Linked DNA regions of Homo sapiens. The protein of the gene in region 1 purifies or fractionates together with the protein of each later gene. This does not show direct contact. Each region holds a gene or a part of one and is shown in the gene's direction. Other genes may lie near its edges.

Region 1 (5,130 bases):
AACAATTTTATTTTGCTTTTTTCTATACCTTATAAATGTGGCTTAAAAATCATATAGGTAAATTATGAAAATAAAATTCGTCATAACTCAAACTCAGTATTTATAAGGTTAGGGATAGTATGATACCAATAACAAATGAAACTATTCAGATAGTATAGTTAGGATTTAGATAGAAAGCTTTAGATCATTTTTGGAAGCTCATTTCCTTCCTATCTGAAGCTTTTAGATGGGTTGTATAAAACTGCTAATACTTGACCATTTTTGAATGGTCACAGAAGTGACAATTTCATATGATTTAACCTGATGATTTTTAAAAGGAATTGTTTATTTAGAAGAGTCTTGTAAATAACTGAATACACAATAACAAAATGTTATTTCAATTACTAATTTTAGACAAAAGCGAAAAGAAAAACGCAAGAGGAAAAAATTAGAGCGACAATGTCAAATGGAACCAAACTCAGATGGACATGACAGAAAACGTGTTCGAAGAGATGTTGTTCATAGCACCCTTCGCCTTATTATTGACTGTAGTTTTGATCACTTGATGGTATTAAAGGTATCATGAATCATTGTCAGAAAAATCTTGTATGTGAATTAGGTCGAATCATTTTTGTTTTAATATGCAATATCCCTTTTATGTAAATTTGTGTATTGAAATGAATCTTCAGTTTTTCAAACTTTCCCCTAAGTTAAATTAGCTAGCAAATTGCATTGATATAATAAATATGTGTATTTATATATGTGTGTATGTGTGTGTGTCAGTATGTGTGCAGACAGGAAAGAGAGACAAACACACACTTTGTAGTCTAGATGACAGAACTAAATTAACTACTTATTGATCATAAAGATCTGTGGGGTTTTACCAGTGTTGTTGGTAAAACATGAAAATAGTAATAGTATGGCTCTAAAAGTCTTGTTGTTGTCTCTTTAGAGAGTAGCCGTTTTCATGAACTAGCATTTTAAATAAATACAAAATATGAAATAATGGGTCACTTACAGAGCATTAACTTACAGTAATTTTGCTAGTATGTAAGGAAATCAAATAACATTTATCAGAATGCATTTGTATTTAAGAAGAAAAATTGTATGTATATAGTCATCCCTTCTGCTTATTCCATTCCTTTAAGATCATAGAATGGCCATAGACAATTTTAATAACTTTGCTTTAAAAATTGAACTCTGTGATAGGACATTAAGAAACTTCATAAGCAGATTCAACGATGTTACGCAGAAAACCGACGGGCACTGCATCCTGTGCAGGTATGTGTAAAGATTTTAAAGCAGACTCTAGTTTTCTTTTATGTCTTTTGTGGCAAAAGACATAGATAATTCCTATAGTCTTTGCAGTAGTCTTACAGGTAATCTTGTTTAATGCCTATGTGAAAAAAATTTTTTTGACAGAAATGAAGCAAAATATTTTAAACATCTTTTAATATGTTATCTTAGACACACTCTTTCCAGTAATCATCAGTCTTATACAAATTGGCCTTTTCATTGCCTGTAGTTGATATCTTCATTGTGGGACATACATATATTTTTATACCAGTTTTTCAGTTTACAATTACTTCCAGTGTGGGAGAGAGATTGGACAGAGAGGCAGAAGCTGTGGCTGCCACCGCTTGACATATGTCGTGGTATCTGTTGTATAGATTTTGTCTACTTAAAGGTTTTTAGTTTTCTTTTGGGTCACTGAGAGTTTTGACAGGTCTTTTTTAAGCTGAGGTGAGGGAGTGATTTGGGAGACTATTTGGCTACTGTTAAGAATAACATCTTTCTGTTGGAATTCTAGGTGACCTAAAAATTAATACTGGCTCACTGATGTTAAGAACCAGGAACTATTAATATATTTTGGTTAGATATTTTGTTTTTACCAAGTGATAGTAATTTTGTATTTTTGTTTTTTATACTTTTTGTTTTATAGTCTCATATCACACTTCTGTGATAGTCCTTTTATCCCCATTTTTATCTGTAGTAGACCCCTTCTCACCCTTGATTCAAACTTAAATAGGTGTCAGGGTTTAGAATCAAAGAAAAATTATGAAGACTTTGTATTGTTTTAAAAAAAAGAGGAGTGGGAACTTGACATGGAAGCAGGGAGTTTGTAGACAAGTGATGATTAAGGTACAGGCATGTTATAACTACTTGGGATGAAAATGTAAATGGGATACTGCAGCTACTGGGTTATGAAACATGCACACAAAACGTACTATTTCTACCACAGTTTATTGTTTGCTCAAAGCATGTCACAAATTTTTTTTCTAGATGAATGAGAATAAATATATTTTGTGTTTCATTGATCGTCAGATAAGTAGATGAGAGAAATAAAATATTAGACTTAAATGGTCATTTGTTCTCTTTTTCTATACTTACAAATCTTTTATCAGTTTTACTTGACAAGCCACGGAGGCCAGCTGAAAAAGAACATGGATGAAAATGACAAAGGATGGGTCAACTGGAAGGTAATTAAAACAGATAAACTCTCACATAATTCCAAGTATTTTTATGTTTCTAAAGGTCTACATTTTGTACCTAAATTCTATATAATGCTACTTAATACAACAATCTCCAGATGCAATCTCTGAACCTAAGTCTAAGATTACAAATCAGAGATGCTGAAGAAGGGAGTGAGACATCTGGTAGCTTGTATTTGTTCTCATTAAATCTTCCCTATTTTATGGTCAACTTTTAAAACGTATTTTTAAAAAGAAATAATTTTAAGGGCCTTTATATCATTTCTCCCTAACATACTAGCTATACATTATATGTTACCTATAAAAATGAAGTCACTCTAAATTTTGGAAGTGTGCCTGCATTCTGTTTCTTCTTACTCTGTGCTGGCCACTATCCACATGTGGCTATTGAACTTGAAATGTGACAGTCTGAATTGTGAATTGAGATGTGCTATGAATGTGAAATACATACTGGATTTCAAAGACTCAGTACCACAAAAGAGAAAGAATGTGAATATCTCCTAGGTAATTTTTAAAATATTTATTATATGTTTAAATGATAAACTTTTGGGTATACTGTATTAATAAAATAAATTGTTAAAATTAATTTCACCTATTTTCACTTTTTAAAATTTGGATACTAGAATATTTAAAATTGCCTATGTGGCCTCACAGTTTTTTCTATTGGACCAAATTGTTCTCAGTCATTGGTAAAGGTGACTAAATAGATTGGCCTTGGTACCAGTCCCTGAGGAACTTGATCCTATTTAGGGAAGTACTGGGTTATCCCTATACCTTTTTTCTTTCTCAAAGTCAGTTCTCTCAGTGACACACTTTCCCTTTCACACTCACTAATTCCATAACAAAGGCATTTATTTTATTAATAGCCTATGATATGAAACATTTTCAAAGGCTTTTAAGTTTTTAAGTACAGTATATTTACCAAATCCTGTATTTGTGCCCATTTTTCCAAGAACTAGTGTAATAAATTAAAAGAGGCATGTTTTCAGTTATTTTGCGACTTGTTAAATTTATCATTTATACCATCACCTTTCCAGAGAGACTTGAGATTCATTGGTCTCTAATTAATCAGGTTCCTCTTGGGGCCTTAAATTTGTAATATAACATTTTCCAGAAAACTGGCTATTTATTAATTATACATTTTAGGAGAGAGTTCTTTTGCCTCATTCTTGGTTTCATTAAAAATTATGGATAAATGTCATCTGAGCCTGGTGATACATCTTTTATGCAGTCAATGTGGCTTACAAAATCATGACTGCCAGCTATTGTTCAATTTTGTACCTGTGACCTGACAATTTTGGTGAAGAAGTTTTCAAATGTGTGTCTCTTTGTAGAAACAGATACATGGAATTAATTAAATCTATAAACTATTTCCTTTTCTTTTTTTCTTTCTTTTTTTTTTTTTTTTTTTGAAACGTAGTCGCTTGCACTGTCACCCAGGCTGGAGTGCAATGGTGCAATCTCGGCTCACTGCAACCTCTGCCTCCGGGATTCAAACAATTCTCCAGCCTCAGCCTCCCGAGTAGCTGGGATTACAGGAGCCCGCCACCACACCCAGCTAATTTTTGTATTTTTAGTAGAGACAGGGTTTCACCATGTTGGCCAGGCTGGTCTCGAACTCCTGACCTTGTGATCCACCTGCCTCAGCCTTCCAAAGTGCTGGGATTACAGGCATGAGCCACCGCACGTGGCCAGCTATTTCCCTTTCATGATTCATGTAGATGGAGAGGAAGTAATTGGAGAAGGCATTCTTTGGTCATAGAACAATGTGAGCAAATATGTGGCAGTAAAAATGCGTTTGTTTTGTTGGAACAGAAATAAAGTTGGAAAAGTAGATTACTGCCATATTCAGGAAAGAGTTTTTAAATTAAGGATTTCAGATTTTATCCCACAGAAAAAGATAAAACATTGAAAGTAGTGTTTTTAGAAAATGAGCCTGCTATCAGTGTGTGGAAGTAGGTTGGAGGGGTCTGAGGCCAACAAGGAGGAAATAAAATTAAGAGGCTATTTAAATGATCAAAGTGTGAGATATAAGAAATTGATGTAGTAAATTCAAAATAATGCATTGTAATTATATTATTTCAAACTTTGTTTCATATATTTTTGAATGGATTTGTTTTGGGAAAAGAGAATAATCATTTTTAGCCAACTTTCATAAGGTCTTATTAATTAGTAACCTCTTTCCCTGTTGTCTTAAAGGATATCCATATCAAACCAGAGCACTATAGTGAACTCATAAAGAAAGAAGACCTGATTTACCTTACGTCAGATTCACCTAATATACTGAAGGAATTAGATGAATCAAAGGCCTATGTGATTGGAGGATTAGTAGATCACAACCATCACAAGGTACTATTAAATTTTTATTTTTGCTTTTGCTTGTTCTTAAAATTGATATATCACCATTTCCTGAAAGTAACAATAATACTAATGATAGCTCATCTTTATTGAGTGCCTACTATATGTCAGTCACCTTCTGAGCTAAGCAAAGTATTTCACATAAGTTAGCTTGCTTAATCTTCACTCAACCCAGTGAGATTAGTGCTATTATTATTTACGTTCCACAAGTAAGGAATTCATGGCACAGAGAAATTAAGTCTAAAATCAACAGTAGTAGGTGACAAAGCAGCTATTTGAAACCAGGCTGATTGCTCTGGAG
Region 2 (5,130 bases), on another chromosome or scaffold:
GTTTAACCCTATTTGTGAGCTTCAAGAAGGCTGGTTTTTGTAAACCTGGAGTTAGTATGTTGACAGGTCTGTCTTTGCTCTGTAATCACCTTGGAAACGCTCCAGCTTCTTAACTTCTTTTCTTTGACTACAAGCTACCTGTTATATTAGGGATGGCACAGTCCACTTAGGCATTTACAGGTGTGGGATTATATTTCTTTTTTGTGTGGGAGTGATTGGGACTATAGATATGACTAAGCACACTCATATTATTTTGTTTTGGAAATCAGAGCTCATCAGAGTTCATCCTACCCCCCCTTGTTTTGGCCTGTGCACTATTATATTTCTCTCTCATACATCATAAAATCATCAAAAGCATGTTCTCTACAGAGAAGCAGAAAAATAGTTTAATACTGCAATTCATCTTTCTCATAGAATATGATACATTTAATATTTGTGGCTTTGTAAATATCTAAAGTTAGGCACTCGGCAATGCATTTTGTTGAGAGCCTAATGAAAACATCAAACATTTCTTGCTTAATTATTGTGTATTCATTAAACTCAAGATTAACAGTATACAAGGAAGGTTGATTCAAGTTTTGCTAATACTACACACCCTCAAACCTTCTCTTATGTTGGTTACAAGTTATTCATTAAAGCCTTTTGAAACACTTAAAAGTAGAAACGAAATTTAAAAAATAAAACTTACAAGGTTAATTATTTCTATTAACCTTGGAATGGGAATGGGTGGATGGGTGGATTGGGTAGGTGGATTAGAGGTCTTATGTCATTTGGAACATGTTATAGATAAAGAGATACTGAGTCTATATGGGGCCTTTTTTTTTTGGCTGGTTGGGGCCACATGCCTTTCTTTCCTAGATAGAATGTTTTCCTGTGGAAATGTATTAACTTGCCCATTACCTCCCCTGATGGGCTCCAAAATTGTTCAACAATGTGTATGTCCAGCAATGAGGACCATCGCTGGCACATAGAAAGAACTCAGTACGTATGTATTTATTGTATTGCTGAATGGGCAGAGAGCTGTAGTTAACAACATCTTCTGTTTGGATAGGCTGCTAGGAAAAGCATGTACTATTGAACCTGTGAGGAGCACTCATATCCCACTTCTAACTCCTCATTTCTTCATCGGTCAGCCTGGATGTCTCTTCCTTTAGAAGCCTTTGCTGATCACTCCACTTCTTCCAAATACAGTAGATGTGTCTGCTGTGTATTTATACAACATCCTGAACTACTTAACATGCTGTTTATTTACTTGTTTGTATTCCCCATTAGAATAGGCTCTGAGAAAGCAAAGACTGTATCTGTCTTGCTTATCATTGTATCCCTGACAGCTCGCCCACTGGCTGGCTTTTAATAAGCACACCATAAATATTTACTTGAAATACTCATTTTTAAAATGAACAGATGAATGAATGATAGATGGATGGTGGATGGCATTATGTAGCTAAAAATTGTGTCCTGTCTCTACCTATTTTTGAAGACCATCCTTTAGTTTGCGTTTCCTGCCATGTTTGAGGGGCCTTTTTTTGGTCCATAACTCTTGTCTTTTATTCAAATTAAAACACCGAACAAAAGCACATTCGATTATTGACCATGAGGTTTTTATTCTGCTGTCAGTGTCAACCTCATGTCTAAATCACCTGAGGTCAAACTTACATATATCTGGATAGCCTTTTTGATGACGATGGTAGTCTAATTTGTGTGTTATGTGCTCTTGAAATGTTTTGCTGTAAAGACACTAGAACTGAATTTTGCTTTATTGCAATGATGATGAATGTTAAAAAAAACAACTCAGTAACATTCAAACCAATTTCCAAGTTTGTTCTTCAGCCAGAGGAACTTGCACACTGACTTTTTGTAAAGGTAGCAGATTTATTGTGTTGTAATTCATACACCATAAAATTCACCATTTTAAAGTTTCCAATTTAGTGGTTTTTAGTATGTTTACAGAGTCATGCAACCATCACCACAGTATCATTGCAGGATGTTTTTATCATCCCTCAAAGAAATCCAGACCCACAGGAGGCTGAAGCAGGAGAATCGCTTGAACCCGGAAGGCGGAGGTTTCAGTAAGCCGAGATAGCGCCACTGCACTCCAGCCTAGTGACAGAGCAAGACTCTGTCTCAAAAAAAAAAAAAAAAAAAAAAAAAAAAAAAAGAAAGAAATCCAGACCTATTAGTAGCCACTCCCCATTCTACTTTCTGTCACTATGGATTTGCCTATTCTGCTTATTTCACATAAATGGAGTCATACATTGTATGGCCTTCTGTGTCTGGTTTCTTTTACTTACTTAGCATGATGTTTGAAAGATTCATTGATGTTGTAACATGTATCAGTTACTTTGTTCCTTTTTATGGCTGAATAATATTCCATGGCATCCCATTTTGTTTATCAGTTGACGGATATTTGGGTTGTTTCAGTTTTTAGCTATTATGAATATTGCTCCCATGAACATCTGTGTACAAGTTTTTGTGTGGACATGTGTTTTCGGTTCTGCTGGATATATACATGAAAGTGGAATCGCTTAGTCATATAGTAACTCTGTGGGAGATTTAAGGAACTGCCAAACTGTTTTCTGAAATAGCTGCACCATTTTACATTCTTACCAACAATGTATGAGGGTTCCAGTTTCTCCATATCCTCGCCAACACTTTTTATTATCCCTCTTTTTCATTATAGCCATCCAATGAGTATCTCTTTGTTGGTTGGGTTTTCTTTTCTTTTCTTTTTTTCTGAGATGGAGTCTTCCTCTGTTGCCTAGGCTGTAGTGCAGCAGCGCGATCTCGGCTCACTGCAAACTCCACCTCCCAGGTTCAAGCAATTCTTCTGCCTCAGCCTCCCGAATACCTGGGATTACAGGCATGTGCCAGCACGCCTGGCTAATTTTTGTATTTTTAGTGGAGACAGGATTTCACCATGTTGGCCAGGCTGATCTCAAACCCCTGACCTCGTGATCTACCCCCTCGGCCTCCAAAAGTGCTAGGATTACAGGCGTGAGCCAGGGTTTGCTTTTCTGTAATGATCAATAAAATAGAGCACTTTTCATGGTTTATTGACCATTCTTGTTGAAAATCAGTTGACCATAAATGTGAGGGCTTACTTTTGGGCTCTTAATTCTATTCCATTAATCTGTATGTCTGTCTTTATGCCAGTACCACACTGTCTTGGTATTTTGGACTAAGTTTTGAAATAGAGAAGTGTGAATCTTTCAAGTTTTGTTTCCCTCAAGAGTATTTTGGCTCTTCTGGTTCTCTTGCATTTCCATATGAATTTTAGGATCAACTTGTCAATGATACAAAAACAAAGCAGCTAGAACTTTTGATAGAGATTGAGTTGAATCTGTTGTGCTCACTGGCATTTGGCTGAAACTTTAGCTTGTTACCTCTTTTGGACTAGTTGCGTGGACCTCATTTTGAGCATGTAGATGTGATGTTATCAGGATTTGGTTATTAACTTTAGATTACAAATGTTTGGGAACTTAAACATGTTATTCACAGCCAGGCATGGTGGCTCACACCTCTAATCCCAGCACTTTGGGAGGCTGAGGTGGGTGGATCACCTGAGTTCTGGAGTTTGAGACTAGCCTGACCAATATGGTGAAACCCTGTCTCTGCTAAAAATACAAAAAATTAGCTGGGCACGGTGGTAGGTGCCTTTAGTCCCAGCTACTCAGGAGGCTGAGACAGGAGAATTGCTTGCTTGAACACAGGAGGCGGAGGTTGCAGTGAGCTGAGATCGTGCCACTGCACTCCAGCCTGGGCAACAGAGCAATACTCCATCTCAAAAAAAAAAAAAAAAAGTTATTCACATATAACATACAACAGAAATAATCAATGTTCACTTCGTTGACTATTTACAGAGTGAGCACACCTACATAACAAGAGTCTGGATCTAAAAAGGACCATTGCCAGTATCATTGAGACATTTTGATGTTTGTTTTGATTCAGGTTTTTTCATTTTCCTAGATGTTCTAGTAGAGCTGAAGGCTTATCCTTTTTTTTTTTTTTTTTTTTTTTTTTTTAAAGACCGAATCTTGCTCTATGGCCCAGGCTGGAGTGCAATGGCGCGATCGCAGCTCACTGTAACCTCTGCCTCCTGGGTTCAGGTGATTCTCCTGCCTCAGCCTTCTGAGTAGCTGGGATTACAGGTGCCCGCCACCACACCTGGCTAATTTTTGTATTTTTACTAGAGACGGGGTTTCACCATGTTGGCCAGGCTGGTCTTAAACTCCTGACCTCAGGTGATGCGCCTGCCTTGGCCTCCCCAGGTGCTGGGATTACAGGCATGAGTCACCACAGGCAGTCAGCTTATTTTAACTGCATATTTGGAATATCAGTAGGTAGCATAGTGCAGTGGTTGAGCTACGGACTTTTGGCCTCAACTGCTGGGGTTCAAATTCTAGCTTTACCACCTATTAGCTGTGAGACCGTGGGCACGTTACTTAACCCTATGTGCCCCAGTTTCCTCTTCTGTAAAAGGGGGACAAAACTATCTCATTGGGAGGATTAATATGTAGATTGCTTGGAAAATTGCCTGATGATCACAGTAAGTGCCATATGTGTATTAGCTATTATTCATATTATTACTTTTATTGTTGTTATTTTGTATTTGTATTTCTTTAGTGGAATATAAGCTCCTTGTCTGACTTGTTTATCATGATATGCCCAAAGACTAGCACTGTGCTTGGCACATAATAGATATTCAACACATTTTTTGAGGAAGGAAGAAGGGGATTTTAAATAATAGAATTCCTAAATCCTTTTCTGAAACCGCCTTTGACAGCTATAATGTCTTTCATTTACAACAGCTTCTGGAGCTATTTGACAGCGAAGACCCTCGGGAACGGGACTACTTAAAAACAGTCTTACACAGAATTTATGGCAAGTTTCTTGGTCTTAGAGCATTTATCCGAAAACAGATTAACAATATTTTTCTAAGGTAAGTGGAGTGTGATGGGGGAAGAAGGAGAAGCAAAGTTGGTGTTTTTATGAGTATTAAGTAAATCTCAAATATCTGAAAACGGTGTACTGACTTCTCTTTCTCCCTTTCTGCCTGCCTTCCTTCATTCTACTGACTCTCCTGCCTCTTCCTCTACCCCCTCCCCCTCCTCTCCTCCCCCATCTTCTCCT
Region 3 (5,130 bases), on another chromosome or scaffold:
GAGGACAGTGGCACGATCTCAGCCCAGTACAATCTCCACCTCCCAGGTTCAAGCGATTCTCCTGCCTAAGCCTCCCAAGTAGCTGAGATTACAGGCACCTGCCACCACGCCCGGCTAATCTTTGTATTTTTTAGTAGAGATGGGGTTGCTGTGTTGGCCAGGCTGGTCTCAAACTCCTGGCTTCAGGTGATTGGCCCTCCTTGGCCCCCCAAAGTGTTGCAATTACAGGCGTGAGCCACCACACCCAGCCTGATTTATTTTCATTTGGGTATATACCTAGCAGTGGGATTGCATTTTTACCCGAGTCTTTTTTTTTTTTTTTTTTGAGACGGAGTTTCGCTCTTGTTACCCAGACTGGAGTATGGTGGCGTGATCTCAGCTCACCGCAACCCTTGCCTCCCAGGTTCAAGCAATTCTTCTGGTTCAGCCTCCCAAGTAGCTGGGATTACAGGCGTGTGCCACCATGCCCGGCTAATTTTGTATTTTAGTAGAGACGGGATTCCTCCATGTTGGTCAGGCTGTGAACTCCTGACCTCAGGTGATCCGCCCGCCTTGGCCTCCCAAAGTGCTGGGATTACAGGCATGAGCCACAGCCCCCGGCCTTCACCTGAGTCTTATAGCAGCTCTCTGGAGTCGGAAGGGCAGTGATTTCCTTCTCTGTTCAGATGAGGAAGGAGGCTCCACAGAGCAAATTGACTTGCCTCTAAGAGGGCTCTAGGTGGGATAGGAGGGTTCTAGGTGGGATAGGAGAACTCTGGAGACTGGAGTTCCTTTATGAAACAGAAGCCCTGGAAATGGGCAGGCTGATAAAATGTACAAATTGTGGGGCATTTTATAAGACAGTTATCCTACTTCTCTTCCAAAAGTCAGTTTCATGGGAAAAATAAGTGAAGGGACTGTTGTGGATTAAAAGAGAGTAAAGGCCGTCACAGTGACTCAGCCTGTAATCCCAGGACTTTGAGAGGCCGAGGTGGGTGGATCACCTGAGGTCAGGAGTTCGAGACTAGCCTGGCCAACATGGTGACCGTCTCTACTAAAAATACAAAAAAAATTAGCCAGGTGTGGTGGTGGGTGCTTGTAATCCCAACTACTTGGGAGGCTGAGGCAGGAGAATTGTTTGAATCCAGGAGGCAGAGGTTTTAGTGAGCCAAGGTCACACTATCGCACTCCAGCCTGGGTGACAAGAGCGAAACTCTGTCTCAAAAATAAATAAATAAAATAAAATAAAGTAAAGAAGCAGCTTCCTAGAGCAGATTTGGTTGCTTAAATTGAGGCCAAGTTTCTGGAGTTTTTATTGATAGTTGACAATTACAACTAAAATTTTTTTTTCTCGCTCTGTTACCCAGGCTGGAGTGCAGTGACGCAGTGACGTGATCTTCAGCTCACTGCAACCTCCACCTCCCGGGTTCAAGGGATTCTCCCGCCTCAGCCCCCAAGTAGCTGGGACCACAGGCGTATGCCATATCACTCAGCTAATTTTGTGTGTGCATGGCGTATGCCGTAACACTCAGCTGATTGTGTGTGTGTGTGTGTGTGTGTGTTGTTTTTTTTTTTTTTTTGTGATGGACTCTCACTCTGTCGCCCAGGCTGGAGTGCAGTGGCACAATCTTGGCTCACTGCAACCTCCGCCTCCTGAGTTCAAGCGATTCTCCTGCCTTAGCCTCTGGAGTAGCTCGGATTACAGGCGCGTGCCACCACACCTGGCTGATTTTTATATTTTTAGTAGAGACGGGGTTTTACCATGTTGGCCAGGCTGGTCTCAAACTCCTCACTTCAAGTGATCTGCCCACCTCGGCCTCCCAAAGTGCTGGGATTACAGGCGTGAGCCACTACACCCGGCCTATGTGTGTGTATTTTATTTTTTTATTTTTTTGAGACGGAATTTCTCTCTTGTTGCCCAGGCTGGAGTGCAATGGCGTGATCTAGACTCACTGCAACCTCTGCCTCCCGGGTTCAGGCAATTCTCCTGCCTCAGCCTCCTAAGTAGCTGGGATTACAGGCGCCTGCTACCGCGCCCAGCTAATGTTTGTATTTTTAGTAGAGACCAGGTTTCGCCATGTTGGCCAGGGTGGTCTTGAACTCCTGACCTCAGGTGATCTACCCGCCTCAGCCTCCTTAAGTGCTGGGATTACAGGCATGAGCCACTGCGCCTGGCCAGAAGTTACCTTCTTTGTGCCTGTTTTCTCAGCTGCAAAAGAGGGGTAACAAAGTGCCAGCCCATTAGATTGTCATGGGAATTAAATGACATAATACATACAAAGAGCTTAGTAGAACAGTGCTTGGCACATAGTAAGTGTTAGATAAATGTTGGCCATTATTATTTTATTATGTACCAGATTTCTATAATTCTGCTGATGGACACAGGTTTGTTTTGGTGTGTCTATTAATTCACAGCCATTTGAGTAACAGTATGTCCTAAATGCCAAGGAAGTTACTGGTTCTAGTGATACAGTGGTTTCTGGAGTTTACATTCTAATGGAGGAGGGGGCAGTAAACATATAAACAAGTAGTGTAGCTTAGCACAGTGGTGTGTGGCTGTGATCCCAGCTACTGGGGAGGCTGAGGTTGGAGGATCACTTGAGCCAGGCAATTGAGACTAGCTTGGGCAACTTAGTGAGGCCCCATTTCAATCAAAACAGTGGGCAACACAGACCCCATCTTAATCAAAACAAAAACAAGTAGCATAATTCGAGATAGAAGAGGATGTGGACCTATTTTAAATTAGGTGGCCAGTATGGACTTCTCTAAGGAGGTGACAATTGAGCTGAGACCTAAAGAATGTGTCCCTTAAGAAGTTGAGGGAAGAAGCAATGGGAAGCACTAATGCCAAGGTCCTAAGGTGGGAGCAAGGATGGGAGCAAGGATGATGTTCTCTAGGATCAGCCTCCCGAGTAGCTGGGACTACAGGCACGTGCCACCACGCCTGGCTAATTTTTGTATTTTGAGTAGAGATGGAGTTTCACCATATTGGCCAGGCTGGTCTCGAACTCCTGACCTCAAGTGATCCGACCGCCTCGGCTAATTTTGTGTATTTTTAGTAGAGACGGGGTTTCACCGTGTTAGCCACGATGGTCTCCATCTCCTGAACTCATGGTCCTCCCACCTTGGCCTCCCAAAGTGCTGGGATTACAGGCGTGAGTCGCCGCGCCTGGCACACCCAGCTAATTTTTTTTTGTTTTGTACAGATGGAGTCTTACTTTGTTGCCCAGGCTGGTTTCGAACTCATGGGCTCAAGTGATCCTCATGCCTTGCCCTCCTAAAGTGCTGGGATTACAGGTGTGACCCACTGCGTCCAGCCTGCTGTAGTTTTGTCGGAGAGAAACGATGGTGGCTCAGACTAGAGTGGTGTTTGTGGAACTTGAGGGAAGTAGATGGACAATGCTGCTGTGAATGTGTATCTTTTTTTTTTTTTTTTTTTGAGACAGAGTCTCACTCTTGTCACCCAGGCTGGAGTGCAGTGGCGCGATCTCGGCTCACTGCAAGCTACACCTTCCGGGTTCACACCATTCTCCTGTCTCAGCCTCCCGAGTAGCTGGGACTACAGGCACCCGCCACCACTCCCGGCCAATTTTTTTTTTTTTTTTTTTGTATTTTTAGTAGAAACGGGGTTTTACCATGTTAGCCAGGATGATCTCAATCTCCTGACCTCGTGATCTGCCCGCCTTGGCCTCCCAAAGTGTTGGGATTATAGGCGTGAGGCACCGTGCCCTGCTGAATGTGTATCATTTTTGTGCCCACTTGGGTATTTCTTTTTTTTTTTTTTTTTTTGAGACGGAGTCTCGCTCTTTCGTCCAGGCTGAAGTGCAATGGTGCGGTCTCGGCTCACTGCAACCTCCGCCTCCCGGGTTCAAGCGATTCTCCTGCCTCAGCTTCCCGAGTAGCTGAGATTACAGGCGCCTGCCACCACTCCCGGCTAATTTTTTTTTTTTTTCTTTTTGAAACAGACCCTTGTTCTGTTGCCCAGGATGGAATGCAGTGGCGCCATCTCGGCTCACTGCAAACTCCACCTCCCGGGTTCACGCCATTCTCTTGCCTTAGCCTCCCGAGTAGCTGGGACTACAGGCGCCCGCCACCATGCCCAGCTAATTTTTTATATTTTTAGTAGAGATAGGGTTTCACCTTGTTAGCCAGGATGGTCTCGGTCTTCTGACCTCGTGATCTGCCTGTCTCGGCCTCCCAAAGTGCTGGGATTACAGGTGTGAGCCACCGTGCCCAGCCCACGCCCGGCTAATTTTTGTAATTTTAGTAGAGATGGGGTTTCACCATGTTGGCCAGGCTGGTCTCGAACTCCTGACTTCAGGTGATCTACCCACCTTGGCCTCCCAAAGTGATGGGATTTGTAAACCCAGCACTTTGAGGGAGGCAGAGGCAGGAAGATTGCTTGAGCCCAGGAGCTGGAGATGAGCCTGGGCAACATAGTGAGACCCTGTGTCTACAAAAAAAAAAAAAAACCCATAAATCAGCCAGGTGCAGTGGTGTGCACCTATAGTCCCAGGACTCAATAGGCCGAGGTGGCGGGATCACTTGAACCTGGGAGGTTGAGGCTGCAGCGAGCCCTGATCTTGCCACTGCCCTTCAATCTGGGTTCACAGAATGAGACCCTGTTTCAATAAAACAAAACGTAAACATGGTATTTGGTGTTGATGGCAGTTGAGTATTTAATTTAATTTAATTTAATTTTTTTTGAGACGGAGTCTGTCACCTGGGATGGAGTGCAGCGGCACAGTCTTGGCTCATTGAAACCTCTGCCTCTCAGGTTCAAGCGATTCTCCTGCCTCAGCCTCCCAAATAGCTAGGATTACAGGTGCCCGCCACCAACATGCCCAGCTAATTTTTTTTTTTTAAACAGAGTCTCGCTGTGTCACCCAGACTGGCATGATCTCCGCTTACTGCAACCTCCGCCTCCCAGGTTTGAGTGATTCTCCTGCCTCACTGTCCCGAGTAACTGGGACTACAGGCGCCTGCCACCACGCCTGGCTAATTTTTGTATTTTCTGTAGAGACACGGTTTTGCCATGTTAGCCAGGCTGGTCTCGAACCCCTGGACTCAAGTGATCTGCCCGCCTTGGCCTCCCAAAGTGCTGGGATTACAGGCGTGAGCCCCCACGCCTGGCCATAATTTTTTTTGTAT

What was found. Proteins that work in one complex are often made in the same cells at the same time.
Region 2: the proteins of TRMT10A (region 1) and PPP2R5E fractionate together in Homo sapiens (co-fractionation; one large-scale study listed by BioGRID). This does not show direct contact.
Region 3: the proteins of TRMT10A (region 1) and SAE1 fractionate together in Homo sapiens (co-fractionation; one large-scale study listed by BioGRID). This does not show direct contact.

What each region holds. Positions count from the first base shown.
Region 1 is NC_000004.12:99,553,475-99,558,604, reverse strand, and holds part of TRMT10A (tRNA methyltransferase 10 homolog A), read left to right. Parts: intron 1-393; coding exon 394-556; intron 557-1,188; coding exon 1,189-1,260; intron 1,261-2,384; coding exon 2,385-2,459; intron 2,460-4,670; coding exon 4,671-4,820; intron 4,821-5,130. UniProt on the Homo sapiens protein: S-adenosyl-L-methionine-dependent guanine N(1)-methyltransferase that catalyzes the formation of N(1)-methylguanine at position 9 (m1G9) in tRNAs. Probably not able to catalyze formation of N(1)-methyladenine at position 9 (m1A9) in tRNAs.
Region 2 is NC_000014.9:63,396,395-63,401,524, reverse strand, and holds part of PPP2R5E (serine/threonine-protein phosphatase 2A 56 kDa regulatory subunit epsilon isoform), read left to right. Parts: intron 1-4,808; coding exon 4,809-4,939; intron 4,940-5,130. UniProt on the Homo sapiens protein: The B regulatory subunit might modulate substrate selectivity and catalytic activity, and might also direct the localization of the catalytic enzyme to a particular subcellular compartment.
Region 3 is NC_000019.10:47,136,188-47,141,317, forward strand, and holds part of SAE1 (SUMO-activating enzyme subunit 1), read left to right. Parts: intron 1-5,130. UniProt on the Homo sapiens protein: The heterodimer acts as an E1 ligase for SUMO1, SUMO2, SUMO3, and probably SUMO4. It mediates ATP-dependent activation of SUMO proteins followed by formation of a thioester bond between a SUMO protein and a conserved active site cysteine residue on UBA2/SAE2.